2 separate regions of the Homo sapiens genome follow, and region 2 is linked to region 1. Evidence: fine-mapped expression QTL. Tissue or cell type: monocytes. Region 1 holds a variant in brackets; the other region holds the start of a gene. All regions are shown on one strand. Distances are from middle to middle.

Region 1 (8,103 bases):
GTCGGGTCAGGCCTTTCTGGGAGGATCCCACATCCATCCGGGGAAGAAGCTACAGGCTACTTGGGCCATGACTAGCAGCAAAGCTTGGCCCTCTGACCGGGACCCTGGAGGGCAGTTGGGCCAGGATGTCCTGCTGGGGCGCCCTGGGTGTCATCAACCCCTGGCGCTGTTCTCATCTTGCCCCACTTTGCAGTGATCTGGAGGGGCCAGCCTGGTGAACATCAGGCAGATCCTCATTCGTTTCATGGCCTTGGTGATTCAGCTGCTTTGGCTGTGAAAAGGGAAAAATTACTGGACCCCTCCGAATCCCCTGCGGTTGTGAGGATGAATTCGTGTGAAGAGCTGAGCTGAGATACAAAAATCGCAAGGCCGGGCGCGGTGGCTCACACCTGTAATCCCAGCACTTTAGGAGGCCTAGCTGGGTGGATCATTTGAGGCCAGGAGTTTGAGACCAGCCTGGACAACACAGTGAAACCCCCACCTCTACTAAAAATACAAAAATCAGCCAGGCGTGGTGGCGTGCACCTGTAATCCCAGCTACTTGAGAGGCTGAGGCAGGAGAATCACTTGAACCCGGGAGGCGGAGGTTGCAGTGAGCCGATATCATGCCACTGCACTCCAGCCTGGGACGACAGAGCGAGACTCCATCTCAAAAAAAAAAATGACTTGAACCCGGAAGGCAGAGCCTGGTGCACTCTAAACACAGGAGCTCAGGAACCGCGAGAGAGCTCAAAATAGATCCATGACACAAGGTGACAAAGATAGTATTGGAATTTTTTGGTGAGGATATGGGAAAAAGGATCCAGCTGTTCACCACAAAACTGAAATTTAATTTCTCTGGGACGTTTCTGCTCTTTCCTTGCTAAACTTCCCTCCTTCTCCTTTCCCGCCTCCCACCCGGCCCCAACATCCCCTCTATTGTCCAGCCCCAGCCTTCTGCTGGCACAGCCCTGACCAAAAGCGGGGTGTGGGGGGTTGCCCACAGCGGCCCCCAAGTGTCCCTGGGACGCGTGAATCACGACAAGGGTTACAGCTTGCCAGGCTCCCACTGCACACGAAGCACATTTGGACATTGCAGACTCTGCATCTCTGTGGCAAGGACTGCCACAACCCCCTTGGACCCAGGAACCCCCAGGAGGAAGCGCTAGTACCGGGTGTCAATGTGGCTACCCAGCGCCCGCTGCTTCTGAAGCTAACCTCGAATGCGTCGCCCACATCCATGGCTTCTCTTCTGGGCGCTTCACAGTAACCGTGGAGTAAGGTGGGTAAGTTACCGCTACTCATTTTCCTTGAAATCCCATTTCTCAGGTGAGAGAGAAAAGCTCAGAGAGGCCAAGGGCTCGGGGCAGCTGTGGTGCCACGCCCAGCCCTTTGGTCTGAACTGCCCCATAGACTGCATACAGGTCCCATTGTGTCCGGACTTGGTGGGTTCTTGGTCTCACTGACTTCAAGAATGAAATCGCAGACCTTCACGGTGAGTGCTGTAGCGAGTTCTACAGTTCTTAAAGGCGGCGTGGCCGGAGTTTGTTCCTGACGTTCGGATGTGTTCGGAGTTTCTTCCTTCTGATAGGTTCGTGGTGCGGCTGGCTCAGGAGTGAAGCTGCAGACCTTCGCCGTGAGTGTTACAGCTCCTAAGGCGGCGCGTACTGGAGTTGTTTGTTCCTCCCGGTGGGTTTTTAATCTCACTGGCTTCAAGAGTAAAGCTACAAACCTTCATGGTGAGTGCTACAGCTCATAAAGTCAGTGTGGACCCAAAGAGCAAGCAGCAGCCAGTTTTACTGCAAACAGCAAAGCTTGCATAGTGTGTAAGGCAACCACGGCTGGCTTCGGCAGCCCGCTTTTATTCTTTTATCTGGCCCCACCCGCATCCTGCTGATTGGTCCATTTTACAGAGAGCTGATTGGTCCGTTTTGACAGGGTGCTGATTGGTGCGTTTACAATCCCTGAGCTAGACACAAAAGTTCTCCACGTCCCCACTAGATTAGCTAGATACAGAGTGTCCATTGGTGTATTTACAAACCCTGAGCTAGATATAGAGTGCTGATTGGTGCATTTACAAACCTTGAGCTAGATACAGAGTGCCAATTGGTGCATTCACAATCCCTTAGCTAGACATAAAGATTCTCCAAGTCCCCACCAGATTAACTAGATACAGAGTGCCGACTGGTGCATTCACAAACCCTGAGCTAGGCAGAGGGTGCCGATTGGTGTGTTTACAAACCTTCAGCTAGATACAGAGTGCTGATTGGTGCATTTACAACCCCTTAGCTAGACATAAAGATTCTCCAAGTCCCCACCAGACTCAGGAGCCCAGCTGGCTTCACCCAGTGGATCCCCCACGGGGCCTCAGGTGGAGCTGCTTGCCAGTCCCGCGCTGTACGCCCACACTCCTCAGCCCTTGGGCGGTCAATGGGACTGGGCGCCATGGAGCAGGGAGCAGCGCTCGTCTGGGAGGCTCGGGCCTCGCAGGAGCCCACGGTGGGGAGGGGGAGGAGGCTCAGGCATGGCGGGCTGCAGGTCCCAAGCCCTGCCCTGCGGGGAAGCAGCTAAGGCCTGGCGAGAAATCGAGCACAGCAAATGCTGGCCCAGGTGCTAAGCCCCTCACTGCCCCGGGCTTGCGGGCTGGCCGGCCGGCCTCTCCGAGTGCTGGGCCAGCCGAGTCCACGCCCACCAGGAACTTGCGTTGGCCCGCAAGCGCCGCGCGCAGCCCGCACCTCTCCCTCCACACCTCCCAGCAAGCTGAGGGAGCCGGCTCCGGCCTTGGCCAGCCCAGAAAGGGGCTCCCACAGTGCAGCGGTGGGCTGAAGGGCTCCTCAAGCACGGCCAGAGTGGGCGCCAAGGCCGAGGAGGCACCGAGAGCGAGCGAGGGCTGCAAGGGCTGCCAGCACGCTGTCACCTCTCACCATGTCCTGTCCGCTGCCGACCGGCCGCCTCCTGAACCCCTTGCTGTCTGTGATGACGCAGAACCACTGTGCGTCCTAAGATCATAGGCAGCCTGTCGTCACGGCTAATTGTAATGATGCTTCCTCGCCAGGGTTTCATGCTTCTGAGTGTGCACTGCCGTCCGATTTTGTTGTTTTCTCTTGGCTTTGGAGAGGGCTTGGCTCTCAGCAAAGGAGATGTGGAGTGAGCCACTCTCATCTTTGCCCCAGTGCTTTGGTGCCTGGGGTGCCCGGGGTGTCCCTGGGAGTGTCTGTGCTGTTGAGGGCACCTGCTGAGGCCTGCATCATCTTCCCTGAGGCAGAATCTTACAACTTTCGGGGGTTGCTGGCTCCTTTGACAACCTGAGAAAGATGGTGGTCCCTTTCCCAGAAATCTGCAGAGACACACAAGAATAATACATGCACTTGAGGGGTTTAGATACCCTCTGACATCTATTTCAGGATTTTCCAGGGGTTCCTAGAGCCTGGATTGAGACCTATATTATGGGGTGTTGTCTACCTGTTCTGCCAATTTCTAGAGCTCCAAAACCTGGATGCTTACATTATGATTGGATAGCTGGGTGTAGCCATGCCTGAAGAAGGCTTCTTTTTTTGAGACTGATTCCATAAAAGGATTAGTTTGAGAATGGCTGAGACCCACTGAGTGAAAACGATGTCCTGTTTATTCACCAATCAACTTCTGCACAAATATATGCGGCAAACAATGAGTACATATAGTGTCTACGTATTACAGTACAATAACCTTCACTGAGATCCAGACACTCCGTTATGGGCTGAGCAGGCATTATCCTATTAGTCTTCATAATCCCCCAGTCGACCCTGTGGGGGATCTGTCAGAGTGGTGGGAAAAACTATAGGGAAAGGATGCAAACCTTCCGAAAGGTCAGAAGGTTTTGCAGAGCCCTGGGGGAGAATAACTGAAGGCAGCTGTTCTATAACCCTGAGGCAGAGGGCAAGGAGTAGGTACAAGGGAGTGTGGGGGAATTTATCTTAAAAGGCTTGTTTGTTTATGTTGTCCAGGAACTGACCTTTGATCATGCGGGTGTGAGGTTCCCTGAAAGGGGAACAATACCTTTTTTTTTTTTTTGAGATAGAGTCTCACTCTGTCACCCAGGCTTAAGTGCAGTATCACTGTCTCTGCTCACTGCAACCTCTACCCCGGCAGGATTCAAGCAATTCTCCTGCCTCAGCCTCCCGAGTAGCTGGGATTACAGGTGCGTGCCACCACTCCCAGCTAATTTTTGTATTTTTGGTAGA[G/C]ACGGGGTTTCACCATCTTGGCCAGGCTGGTCTTGAACTCCTGACCTCATGATCCACCTGCCTTGACCTTCCAAAGTGCTGGGATTAGAGGCGTGAGCCACCGTGCCTGGCCACAGTAATTGTCAGTTACCTGCAGGTCGTGTCGGCTCCAGGTTTTCCACATTGTGCCTGCACTGAATAAAAGCAAGCAGCTCCAGCTTCTTGGGGCTGCTCTCTGGCCACTTGAGCCAGGCAGTCACCCAGCTGCTCTTATGCTGTATGCCTGTGTCTGAGAACTCATTTCATCCGTTGGCCAGGGTCTATGAGACAGATCTGGCACCACCCCACAGTATAGTGCTGTTATGAGCTCCCTGAGGCACAGAGAAGTTAAATAACTTGCTCAAGGGCTGAAGGTCACACAGCAGGTGGTAAAAGTGGCCTTTGACCCCAAGCAATCTGACTCCAGGGCCATTCAATAGTCTAAGAAATTGCAGGCCTGGCATGGTGGCTCATGCTTGTAATCCCAGCACTTTGGGATGCTGAGGCGGGCAGATCACCTGAGGTGAGGAGTTCAAGACCAGCCTGGCCAACATGGTGAAACTCTGTCGCTACTAAAAATACAAAAATTAGCTGGGCGTGGTGGCTGGCACCTGTAGTCCCAGCTACTTGGAAGGCTGAGGTACATGAATCGCTTGAACCCAGGAGGCAGGGGTTGCAGTGAGCCAAGGTCGCGCCATTGCACTCCAGCCTGGGTGACAGAGCGAAAGCCTGTCTCCAAAAAAAAAAAAAAAAAAAAAGAATGGAAAGGAAATTGGTAGGTGAGGCTGTCCCCCATCCTGTTCTGGGACTTGAATCTGTTCCCCGCTCAGGCCACTGGATCCTGCTGGGGCCCAGGCAAGAAAAGCGGGCTCTAGACCAACCCTGCAATTGCATTTTTCTAGAAAGCCTTCATCACACGTTGCAGCTTAAGGTCCCAGTCTAGGGGTTCTCAACGGACTGTATCTTGAAGTGGCATTTGCCTGGCCCGGCAGGGAGACAGGACTCTGTTCTCAGGCAGATTTGGGTGGTAACATGACCTCATTTGACTCCCAGGCTGGCAGGGCCTGGGAAATATCAGTTTATGCTTGTTTCCAGAGTTTTAAAGGAGGTTTCCTTTGCCTCTCATACACTGCAAAATGCCTGCTTGGAGTGATGCTTTGCTACTTGCTTCCTGGTTGCCGAGTCTCCCTTTAAGTTCTGAGTCTCTCTCTAAGAGGCCCTTTGGTGTTGGAAGGGGCTTAGAACCCTGGCTTTGTCATGAGTCCCTTTCCTGAAAACAGCTCCCGTGCAAGGCTGTTCCACTTCCACATTCTCAAACACCCTCCCTCCCACAGATCCCCAGCCCACCCCGACAGTCTTGTCCAACTTGAGGATGGAGGTGACAGCCATCACGGAGTCTAATGCCCTCACTTTTTTTTTTTGAGACAGGGTCTCACTCTGTTGCCCAAGCTGGCGTGCAGTGGTATGGTCATGGCTTACGGCTCACAGCAGCCTCAACTTCCCCAGGCTCAAGAGATCCTCCTGCCTCAGCCTCCTGAGTAGCTGGGACTATAGAAGCACATTACCAGCTGGGCTAATTTTTAAATTTTTTTGTAGAGACCGGGGTCTTGCTATGTTGCCCAGGCTGGTGTCAGACTCCTAGGCTCAGGTGATCCTCCCACCTTGGCCTCCCAAAGTGCTGAGATTACAGGTGTGAGCCACTGCACCCTACTCCCTCACTTTTGCAGATGGGAAACCAAGGATGAAGGAGAGGAGAATGCCTTGCCCAAGACCTCAGTGCTAAAATTCTCGGCAGCTGTGGTTTGTATTCACCTGGGGCTGGCAGCATCGGGACCACCAGGAGACCCGGTGGAAATGCACACCTCTGGGGCGCACTCCAGACTTGCTGCATCGGAAGCCATGGCACAACCAGCTCTCCAGGTGACTGAGGCTAACACAAGTTTGAGAACTACTGCCCTGGCCCTTGCTTTCTCGGCTGGGACTGACGTTCTGCACAGGTAGGACCCAGTGACAAACTTTCACCTCCCAACTGCTCCATGTACCTTGGTCCCCACAAAAGCCTTCCTCACACACAAGTAAACTCCAGAAACAAAGGATAGGAAAGAGCTAGAAGCAGACACTGGTGGTTATGAACATCTTCACATGATAGACAATGCAGCTCCAAAGTGAGGAAAACTGGCTTGCTATTTCAGCACAAACAAGACGCCAACCAGCCAAAAACATTGGTACACAAGCAAAAGAAAACCTAGGCCAGGCACGGTGGCTCACACCTGTAATCCCAGCACTTGGGGAGGCCGAGGCGGGTGGATCACCTGAGAGGTCAGGAGTTCAAGACCAGCCTGGCCAACATGGTGAAAACCCATCTCTACTAAAAATACAAAAAATTAGCCGGGTGTGGTGGCCCGCGCCTGTAGTCCCAGCTACTCGAGAGGCTGAGGCAGGAGAATTGCTTGAACCCAGGAGGCGGGGGTTGCAGTGAGCCAGAATCCCACCATTGCACTCCAGCTTGGGCCACAGAGCAAGACTATCTCAAACAACAACAACAGCAACGAAAATAAAAAACAGAAAGGAAAAGAAAACCTAGGCTGGGCATGGTGACTCCCGTCTGTAATCCCAGCACTTTGGGAGGCTGAGGCGGGCAGATCACCTGAGGTGGGGAGTGTGAGACCAGCCTGGCCCCCATGGTGAAACCCTGTCTCTACTAAAAATACAAAAATTAGCCAGATGTGGTGGTGCACGCCTGTAATCCCAGCTACCTGGCAGGAGAATCACTTGAACCCAGGAGGCGGAGGTTGCAGTGAGCCAAGATCATGCCACCACGCCACTGCATTCTGGCCTGGGTGACAGAGTGAGACTCTGTCTCAAAAAAAAAAAAAAAAAAGAAGAAAATCTAAGTGAAAACTGCTGAAGCCAGCTGGAAAGCGGCTTCTGTTTGTCCAGATGAAGCCAGCAGAAGTAACAAGGGAGCCTTCAGTGACCTGGGGCTCCGTCCCCACTGCCTGGTGCTGGCCGTGGGGCTGCAGGATTTTAAGGCCCTGCCAGCCTGAGGCCCCGTCTCCTCCTCCTATCTTATCCTCCCATGAGAAGGCAATGAGACAGATGTCTTCGCAGCGCCCCTTCACCCACTCACCCGCCCATCCGCTCATCTATCCATCCAACAAGCTGTTATTAGGCACCGGCTGTGTGCCAAGTCCCTGGGGCTGGAACCCAGATCTGGGGCAAAGGTACAGACCCTAAGCTGAGGCCTGTGGAGGGAGTGGCAGGCCCTGTGGGGCAGGGGTCCTGGCAGGTGTGCTGGGGTCATCCCCATTGTGCCGCTCGCTGGGCTGGGGCTCATACAGCCAGGTGGCCCAGCCTAGAGTGTGCATATCCTCACAGTGAGGCGGTGGCCAGGCTGGCACAGGGCACTTTCTGCTCAGGAAAGGGGTCCCGCGGGTGGGTGCTGTGTCCTTTCTGCTCTTCCTAGGTGAGGAGGGACCACAAAGGAGAGCACAGGGTGGCTTCAGCGGGGGTGGCTGGACACTGGGATGGTCAGCCTGGAGGTCACTTGGCCGTTTCAGCCTCCTGGGCACCCTCCCCAACTCCTGCTGGCCCAGGTGCCCTGGGGTCTTCACCCTCACCCCACTTACTCCAACACTGCTCTCTCCTTCCCCCGGGGCGTTTCCCTCCCTGCCTGTGCCCTGGTTGAAGGCTGAACCATGCCTGGAGCTCTGCTCTGGTTAAGAAATGTTTGTGGAATATCTGACCAAAAGGATGCTGCAGCAGCCCCGGAGGCCAGGACCAAGTGGCATGTTGATGGTGCAGATGAGACACTGGGACTCTGAGAGGCCACAGAACTTGCCAAGGGCACTCCATGGCTGAGGAAGGGGCCAGGTCCCGCCCATTC
Region 2 (8,103 bases), 110 kb after region 1:
AAAATCAAAAGCCCATCTCTACAACAAATACAAGAATTAGCCAGGCATGGTGGTACACCCCTGTACTCCCAGCTGAGGTGGGAGGATCACTTGAGCCCGGGAGGCTGGAGCTGCAGTGAGCCCTATCTCAAAAAAAAAGAAAAGAAAAAAAAAATTCCTCAAGTGTCAGGTTTAAAAAGAAAGAAAAAAGAAAAACACTAAGTTATGAATACATTAAGGCTACAGCTACCTAAGAAATCTGTATAGCTAAATCTGTATAACTAATTTTATAGCTGAAATTTGGAAAGGACTCATGGAAAATAAAAATAGTTCAAGTGTTTGAAAGATAGGATTATGACTGGAATATTTTTCTTGACATTGAGAATATGTTTCAATAAAATACGGGAATTTTTAAAGAAAGTAAACTCAATAGTTCCCTGTCATTCCAGAGAACAAAGTCCATATGTCATAACTCCAAGAACTTTCACTCTCTGTCTTCAACTTGTATTTTTCATTCAGCTAATATCTACAGTGACTACTCTGTGCCAGGCATCATGGTAGGCACTGAAGTACAGAGATGGGAAAGACATTATTACTGCCTTCAAGGAGCTTATAGACTAGCAGAAAATAGACATGTCAACAAATAATTACAATGCAACGAGATAAGTCTGACAATCAAGTCTTTTCTTAAAAGACTATGGCTTCCCAGATTAAGGAAAAACAGGCAAATGATAGAGAAGCTTTTCAAAGAACACTGAATTGGATATTGAAGGACAAGTGGAACTTTACAGACAGGACTGAGGTTGTGAAGAAGAGTAGTCTATGAACTAGTGGTACAAAGGCTGAGGTAGAATAGTATGTGTTAGCGATACAGAATGCTCAAAAGCCTCTGGTATCATGCCAAGGAGTTTAGATTTTATCCTACAGGTAGTGGAGACCCTTAGGGGCTTTCAGCACTGAAGTCCTAGGATTATTCTACGATTATCTTGGACCTCTTTATTCTATCCATTTTTCTCTTAGAAAAAAACACATATATATGTAAATTAAAATATATATGTATATCTTTTAATTTTTAATATTTCTTACATAAAGATACAGAAAATAGAATTACACCCATGTACCCACCAACCAAATTTAAAAAGTTAAACTCGGCCCTATTCTCTCTCTTTTAAAGGCATAAAACATTTCAGGTAGATTGACTGACGGACTCTCACTCTGTCACCCAGGCTGGAGTGCAGTGGTGCAATCTTGACTAACTGCAGCCTCCTGGGTTCAAGCGATTCTCGTGCCTCAGCCTCCCCAGTAGCTAGAACCACAGGCGCACACCACCACGCCCAGATAATTTTGTATTTACTATAGAGAGGGAGTTTCGCCATGTTGGTGAGGCAAGTCTCGAACTCCTGGCCTCAGGTGATTCGCCCGCCTCATCCTCCCAAAGTGCTGGGATTATGGGTGTGAGCCACTGTGCCTGGCCTCATTTCAGATATATTTAAAATCTCACTCATGGCCGGGCGCGGTGGCTCGCCTGTAATCCCAGCACCTTGGGAGGCGGAGGCAGGCGGATCACGAGGTCAGGAGATCGAGACCATCCTGGCTAACACAGTGAAACCCCGTCTCTACTAAAAATACAAAAAATTAGCTGGGCGTGGTGGTGGGTGCCTGTAGTCCCAGCTATTTGGGAGGCTGAGGCAGGAGAATGGCATGAACCCGGGAGGCGGAGCTTGCAGTGAGCCAAGATCGCGCCACTGCACTCCAGCCTGGGCGACAGAGCGAGACTCCATCCCCCAAAAACAAAAACAAAAACAAACTCACTCATTCCAGGAATGACTATGAAAAAGGAAAAAACAGATAAAAATTTAAAAATCAAAACAATAAACTATCACTCATTCCCCTTACCTTTTTCCCTTCCCTTCCTGCTCATAGGTAATACCACCTGTCCTGAAGCGGATGTGTAGAACTTCCCAGCATGATGATGTTCTACTGCACATCTAACACTTTTCCTGATTTTTTAACTCTTGGTTTCCTCAGTAAAACGAAGGAAATAACTACTTCTCCAGGTTACTGATAGGACTGTAAACTATACTTATAAGGTACCTGTCATGGTGAGTGGCATTGAAAGTGACACAGGACCCAGAAATTTCATTTCTTCCCAGTAGATTATAAGCTACTGTCTGACAGTATAAGCAGCCCAGCTAACAAAATGTTGATTTAATTAATTCTATTTACTATTCCCCAAACAGAATACTTTTGCCTACCCGCTTCTTCATCTTCTGATCTCTCATGCAGTCTCTCGAATTCCTGTCCCTTAATCTTGACAGTGACACACCAGTGTTATTTATCTGCATGGGTGGCACAAGGAGCTGTCAGTCACCTGCTCCATCTCACGCCATGAGGTACCTAAAGTTCTGTGTGACCTAAGGACAGGTGAGGGCTATAGGAGAAAGCCTAATGTTGTGGGACATACTTTAAAATCAGGCGCTTAGTTCAAATCCTGTATCTCTAGCACTTAATCACCAAATGCTCTTTCTGTACGGAGACAACCTCTTTGTACTTCAGATTCTCCATGTCTAAAATGGGGACAATTTCATCCGCTTCTCTGGGTAATGATAACAGAACCCTTACTGTGTACTATGTAACAGGTAGCCTTCGAAGCATTTATTATTGCATATATTAAGTCGTTTAATCCTAACAAAAACGCCAGGAAGTAGAAGAGACCATTTCCCCCATATGACAGACGAAAACCAAGACACTTAGTGTTTCAGTAACGTGCAGTAGACACAGAGCTAAATGTGAAGGAGCCAGAATTCGAACCCAAGCAATCTGATGCAGTATTCTTAAGCACTTCGCTTTGCTGGGATATCGTAAAGCTACAGTTGTAAGATCAAGGGTGCCAGGAACATGGCACACAGTAGACACTCAAAAACAAGAGTAGCCCAGCTCGTGATTATGGAAGGCCACAGAAAAAGTACAAAGTGTTTTCGTTGTTCCTCAGGAGGGACACGGAGGTAGTAGTGCCAGAGGTCTGGGCTGGGATTACTCTGTGCAGGGCATCATGTTACGCACTGGAGTATATGGGCAACAACATGCCAGGTCCTAGCCCATGCTCGGCCTCCGACGCCCCGGGAGACCTTGGCAGAGTTCGCCCCCGCCCCGGGCCTCTGTTTCCCCATTTGGGAACGTATTTATGTATCTGCTGTCCTCCCAGGATGTTGGCCAGACTAGAGGACTCAGCGGGCCGAGGCGAACCAGTGCAGGAAACGGAAGAACCCGAGCGGCCTCCAGCTCCGGGCCGGGCCGCCAGAGCAGGGCTAGATCAATGCGGACCGACCCGTAGTTACGCGCGCGGTACTCACCTCGCACGCAGACTCCTAGCGGACGGAACCAGGATCCAAACTTCCCGCGCCGCAACCACGGCCGCCGCGCCAAGCCCTGGCTCACTTCCCGCCGGAAGCTTGCCTATTCCGATTGGCTGCTTCCTGGGGAAGCCGACCAATACTGTCGCACTCGGACATCTGTTCCCGCCCCCTCAGGCTGCTGGGGCGGGGTCGCCGTACAGCGCCGGGAGGGACGCGTATCTCCAAAGCCCAATCAGAGTCCGGACGGGAGGGTCAGATGACTACGGTTACATCTCGGGCTTCCGGAGCTAGTTGGGTCTTTGTTTTTGGTGTTTTAGAGTCGGTGAAGGCTTTAAAGGAAGTAGGCAGCTGGAACCCGGCTGTGGCGGGTTGAAAAGCCCGGGCGTTTGAGAGCTGAGACTTGCCAGTTCCCACAGGCCAAGCCAGGCGTCTGCACCCCATTCTCTTGGTTCCGACGGTGTGTCTCTGCGATGTTTTGGCGGTCTCTCCTCTCCATCCCCTTAATAATACTGGTCTCTGTTTCACCCGTACCCCTCTACACGAGCAGGTGCAAATTGTCATTGAACCGGGAAAGTGGGCACACACTCAGATGCCTCCATGGACACGTGAGAAACCATGCTTCTGTTTCAGCCTATTGCTGACACGCGGGAATGTGGGCCCTGTGATGCCAGATCTTACTTTCTTTCCTTTCTTCCTCTCTTCTCCCCTCTCTACTTCCTTCCCTCTCTCCTTCCCTCCCGCCCTCCCTCCTCTTTGTGTGTGTGATAAAATCTATCTAACATAAAATTCACCATTTTTAAGTGTACAGTTCACTGGCATTAAGTACATTCACATTGTTGTGAAACCATCACCACTATCCATCTCCAGAACTTTTTCATTATCCCAAATAGAAAATCTGCCTGTTACACAGTAACTCCCCGTTACCCGTTTCTCACAACCCCTTATAGCCGATATTGCACTTTCTGTCTGTAAGTGCGAGGTACCGCATATAAATTGAATCATACAATAATTGCTCTTTTCTGATTGGCTTATTTCACTTAGCATAATGTCTTCAAGGAGCATCTATGTTGTAGCATGTATCAGAATTTCTTCCTTCTTGAGGCTAAATAATATTCCATTATACATGTATACTACATTTTGTTTATCCATTCATCCATATAAATGGATGCTTGGTTATTCCCACCTTTTGGCTATTGTGAATAATGCTGCTATGAACTTTGGTATACAAATAATCATTCTCCACATAATACGCAGAAAGAGTTTTCTAAAATGTAAAAATCTGTTCAAGTTACCTCCCTCCTGAAAATCTTCTATGGTAAATTGAAACCAAAATATGATACTATTAAACACTCCATAGAATAGCTGAAATGAAAAGACTGACAATTCCCTTAGTTGCAAAGATGCAGAAATGGGACTCTCATACAGTGTTGATGGGAGTGTAAAATGGTACAACCACTTTGGAAACATCAGTCTCTACTGAAATCAAATTTACCCCTACCCTATACCCCAGAAATCCCATTTCTAGATATTTACCCCAAAAAATGAATGCCTTTATTCACCAAAAGACTCATAGCAGCTTTATTCATAATAGCCAAAGGGAAAAAACCCAGATGTCCACCAATAGATGAATAGATAAATTGCAGCTTATTCATATAACTGTATACTACTGTTGAAGAATAATTTTAATATCAAATATAATACAGATATAAAATAAATGTTAGAGATTTTATTTAACTCATTAATGAATGAGATATCCAGAAAGATTACAACTGCTTCAATGGAAAATTCAAAGTACCACACACATAGTCAAATGAGGAATAATGAAATAACTACAAATATATACAAAAACTGGCAGAACTGATGAAATCCACAGCTTAGTAATCAATTGCATTCTACTGAAAACAATTTGCATTTCTTTTTTTTTTTTTTTTTTTGAGACGGAGTCTCACTCAGCCGCCCAGGCTGGAGTGCAGTGGCGCAAGCTCGGCTCACCGCAACCACCATCTCCCAGGTTCAATAGAGTCTCCCGTCTCAGCCTCCCGAGTAGCTGGGATTACAGGCACCCGCCATCATGCCCAGCTAGCTTTTTGTATTTTAGTAGAGACAGGGTTTCACCGTGTTGGCCAGGCTGGTCTCGAACTCCTGACCTCAGGTGATCCGCCTGTCTTGGCCTCCCAAAGTGTTAGGATTACAGGCATGAGCCACCGTGCCCGGCCACAATTTGCATTTCTATAGACAAGAAGTGTCTATAGTTTGTATAGTTGTTCTGTAGCTCAAAGACAGTGAAAGGTTTAGAGTCTTCATAGAATCAGACATCCTAGAAAAGTAAGCTGGACAGCTGGGCACCTTGTTTTTCAATGACACCCAGTAATCATTTTTTTGTTGTTTGTCTTAGATGGAGTCTTGCTCTGTCACCCAGACTGGAGTACAGTGGTGTGATCTCAGCTCACTGCAACCTCCACTTCCCAGGTTCAAGCGATTTTCCTGCCCCAGCTTCCCGAGCAGCTGGGACTACAGGTACGTGCCACCACGCCTGGCTAATTTATTGTATTTTTAGTAGAGATGGGGTTTCACCATGTGGTCCAGGCTGGTCATGAACTTCTGACCTCAGGTGATCTGCCTGCCTTGGCCTCCCAAAGTACTGGGATTACAGGCTTGAGCCACCATGCCTGGCCCCAGTAATCTGTTTTAGACCATTTCAAAGCTTTTCTCAGTTTTTTTCTGTATTACAAAGTAATAGGAGGATGAACTACTGGTACATACAATATAGATGAAGCTCAGACACTATGCTGAGCACAAAAAGAGGTAGATAAAAGAGTATATAGGGCCGGGCGCAGTGGCTCACGCCTGTAATCCCAGCACTTTGGGAGGCCGAGGTGGGTGGATCACGAGGTCAGGAGATTTGAGACCATCCTGGCTAACACGGTGAAACCCTGTCTCTACTAAAAAATACAAAAAAATCAGTCAGGCATGGTGGCGGACGCCTGTAGTCCCAGCTACTCAGGAGGCTGAGGCAGGAGAATGGTGTGAACCTGGGAGGCGGAGCTTGCAGTGAGCCGAGATCACGCCACTGCACTCCAGCCTGGGCGACAGAGCAAGACTCCATCTCAAAAAAAAAAGAGAAAAAGAGTATATAGTGCATACCAGGTTACCCCTGGAGGCAGAGGTAGATGAGGAAGCTCCCAAGGAAATCTTATGGAGTGCTGGAAATTACATATCTGTCTTATATAGACATTTAATATAGATAAAGTAATATATAAATCATTTATATATAAAATCATTATATACATACAATCATTGAGATATGTATTTTTTCAATTTTTTAAAATTTATTTTTATTTTTTGAGACAGGGTCTGCCTCTGTTGCCCAGACTGGAATGCAGTGGTGCCATCTTGGCTCAGTGCAACCTCCACCTCCCAGGCTCAAGTAATTCACCCACCTCAGCCTCCTGAGTAGCTAGGACCACAGGCACATGCCACCACGCCTGGGTAATTTTTGTATTTTTAGTAGAAATGGGGTTTTGCCATGTTGCCCAGGCTGGTCTCAAACTCCTGGCCTTAGGCGATCTGCCAGCCTCAGCCTCCAAAAGTGCTGGGATTACAGCCGTGAGCCTCCTTGCCTGGCCAAGGTATATATTTAAGATTAAGATGAGTGCACAAGCCTTTCACCACCCTACGCTAACATCTACCTTCCAGGTGGGAGGTAAAGGTTGCAGTGAGCTGAGATCACACCACTGCACTCCACCCTGGGCAGCAGTGAGAATCTGTCTCAAAAAAAAAAAAAACACAGAATCCTTCCAGCAGCTCCCATTTGCCTTCAAGGTGAATACCAAACTCCGATTGAGTCCCTGCTTCCTCTCATATGTCATCTGTCCCTCATCCCCATTTTCCTGTCATTTCCTCAAGGTGTTTTATAGTCTTTCCAGTTTCCTGGCCTTTGCCTCCAAATCATACCTCTCATTCATCTCTCAGGTCTCAGGACAACTTCTCTGCAAGTTGTTGGAGAAGTTGGGAAGTTGGAAAGCCTTACCTAATCCTCCAAATCTGCCTGTGTATCCCTCCTAGGTTTTCCCATAACAGCAGTCAGCATTTGTATTGGTTGTGTTGATACTATTAGTGTGCCTGTCTTCCTCTACAGAATATGCTCTCCATGAGGGTGTTCTTCAGGGCCTACCACAATGGCTGGCACTAGAGAAGGGCACAAAATTGAAGAACAGTGAAGACAAAAGCAATAAGATGATTAAGGCCATGTGAGACAGCAACAATATCAGGTGAATGTCACCCTTTATCGAGTTGTGAGTATCCAGCCTCTCACTTTGGGGGATACTGTTTGAGCCTAAGTAACATTAGTGGCTTTATTCATTTGGTAGATTGTTTGTATCTTTGCGTTGTCTCTATCCTGCTTTTTCCTTGGCCATTTTGCTATTAAAAATCTGTTGATTTACTCTGCATTTTCCCATAGAGAAGGGTAGCCTGAGGAGTTATTTAACAATGATGTGTTTTGGCCAGGCGCGGTGGCTCATGCCTGTAATCCCAGCACTTTGGGAGGCCGAGGCAGGCAGATCACGAGGTCAGGACATTGAGACCATCGTGGCTAACATGGTGAAACGCCGTCTCTACTAAAAATACAAAAATTAGCCAGGTGTCATGGCACACGCCTGTAGTCCCAGCTACTCGGGAGGCTGAGGCAGGAGAATGGCATGAACCTGGGAGGTGGAGCTTGCAGTGAGCCGAGATCGCGCCACTGCACTCCAGCCTGGGGCACAGA

The links. PIP is the estimated chance that this variant, and not a neighbour inherited with it, causes the effect.
Region 2: it holds the start of BLM, and the variant in region 1 is fine-mapped to the expression of BLM in monocytes (Fairfax 2014, PIP 0.95).

The regions. Positions count from the first base shown.
Region 1 is chr15:90,820,138-90,828,240 of GRCh38, reverse strand. No RefSeq gene overlaps it. Among named protein-coding and RNA genes, the nearest start is that of FURIN, 44 kb to the left of the region's middle. RefSeq lists an enhancer at 2,057-2,656. The variant G/C (reference allele first, on the strand shown) is at 4,200.
Region 2 is chr15:90,712,670-90,720,772 of GRCh38, reverse strand. BLM (BLM RecQ like helicase) reads right to left here and starts at 3,427. Exons shown (of 22, transcript NM_000057.4): 1 at 3,333-3,427. It overlaps CRTC3-AS1 (CRTC3 antisense RNA 1), which reads left to right and starts at 3,633. Exons shown (of 4, transcript NR_120372.1): 1 at 3,633-3,792; 2 at 7,474-7,606.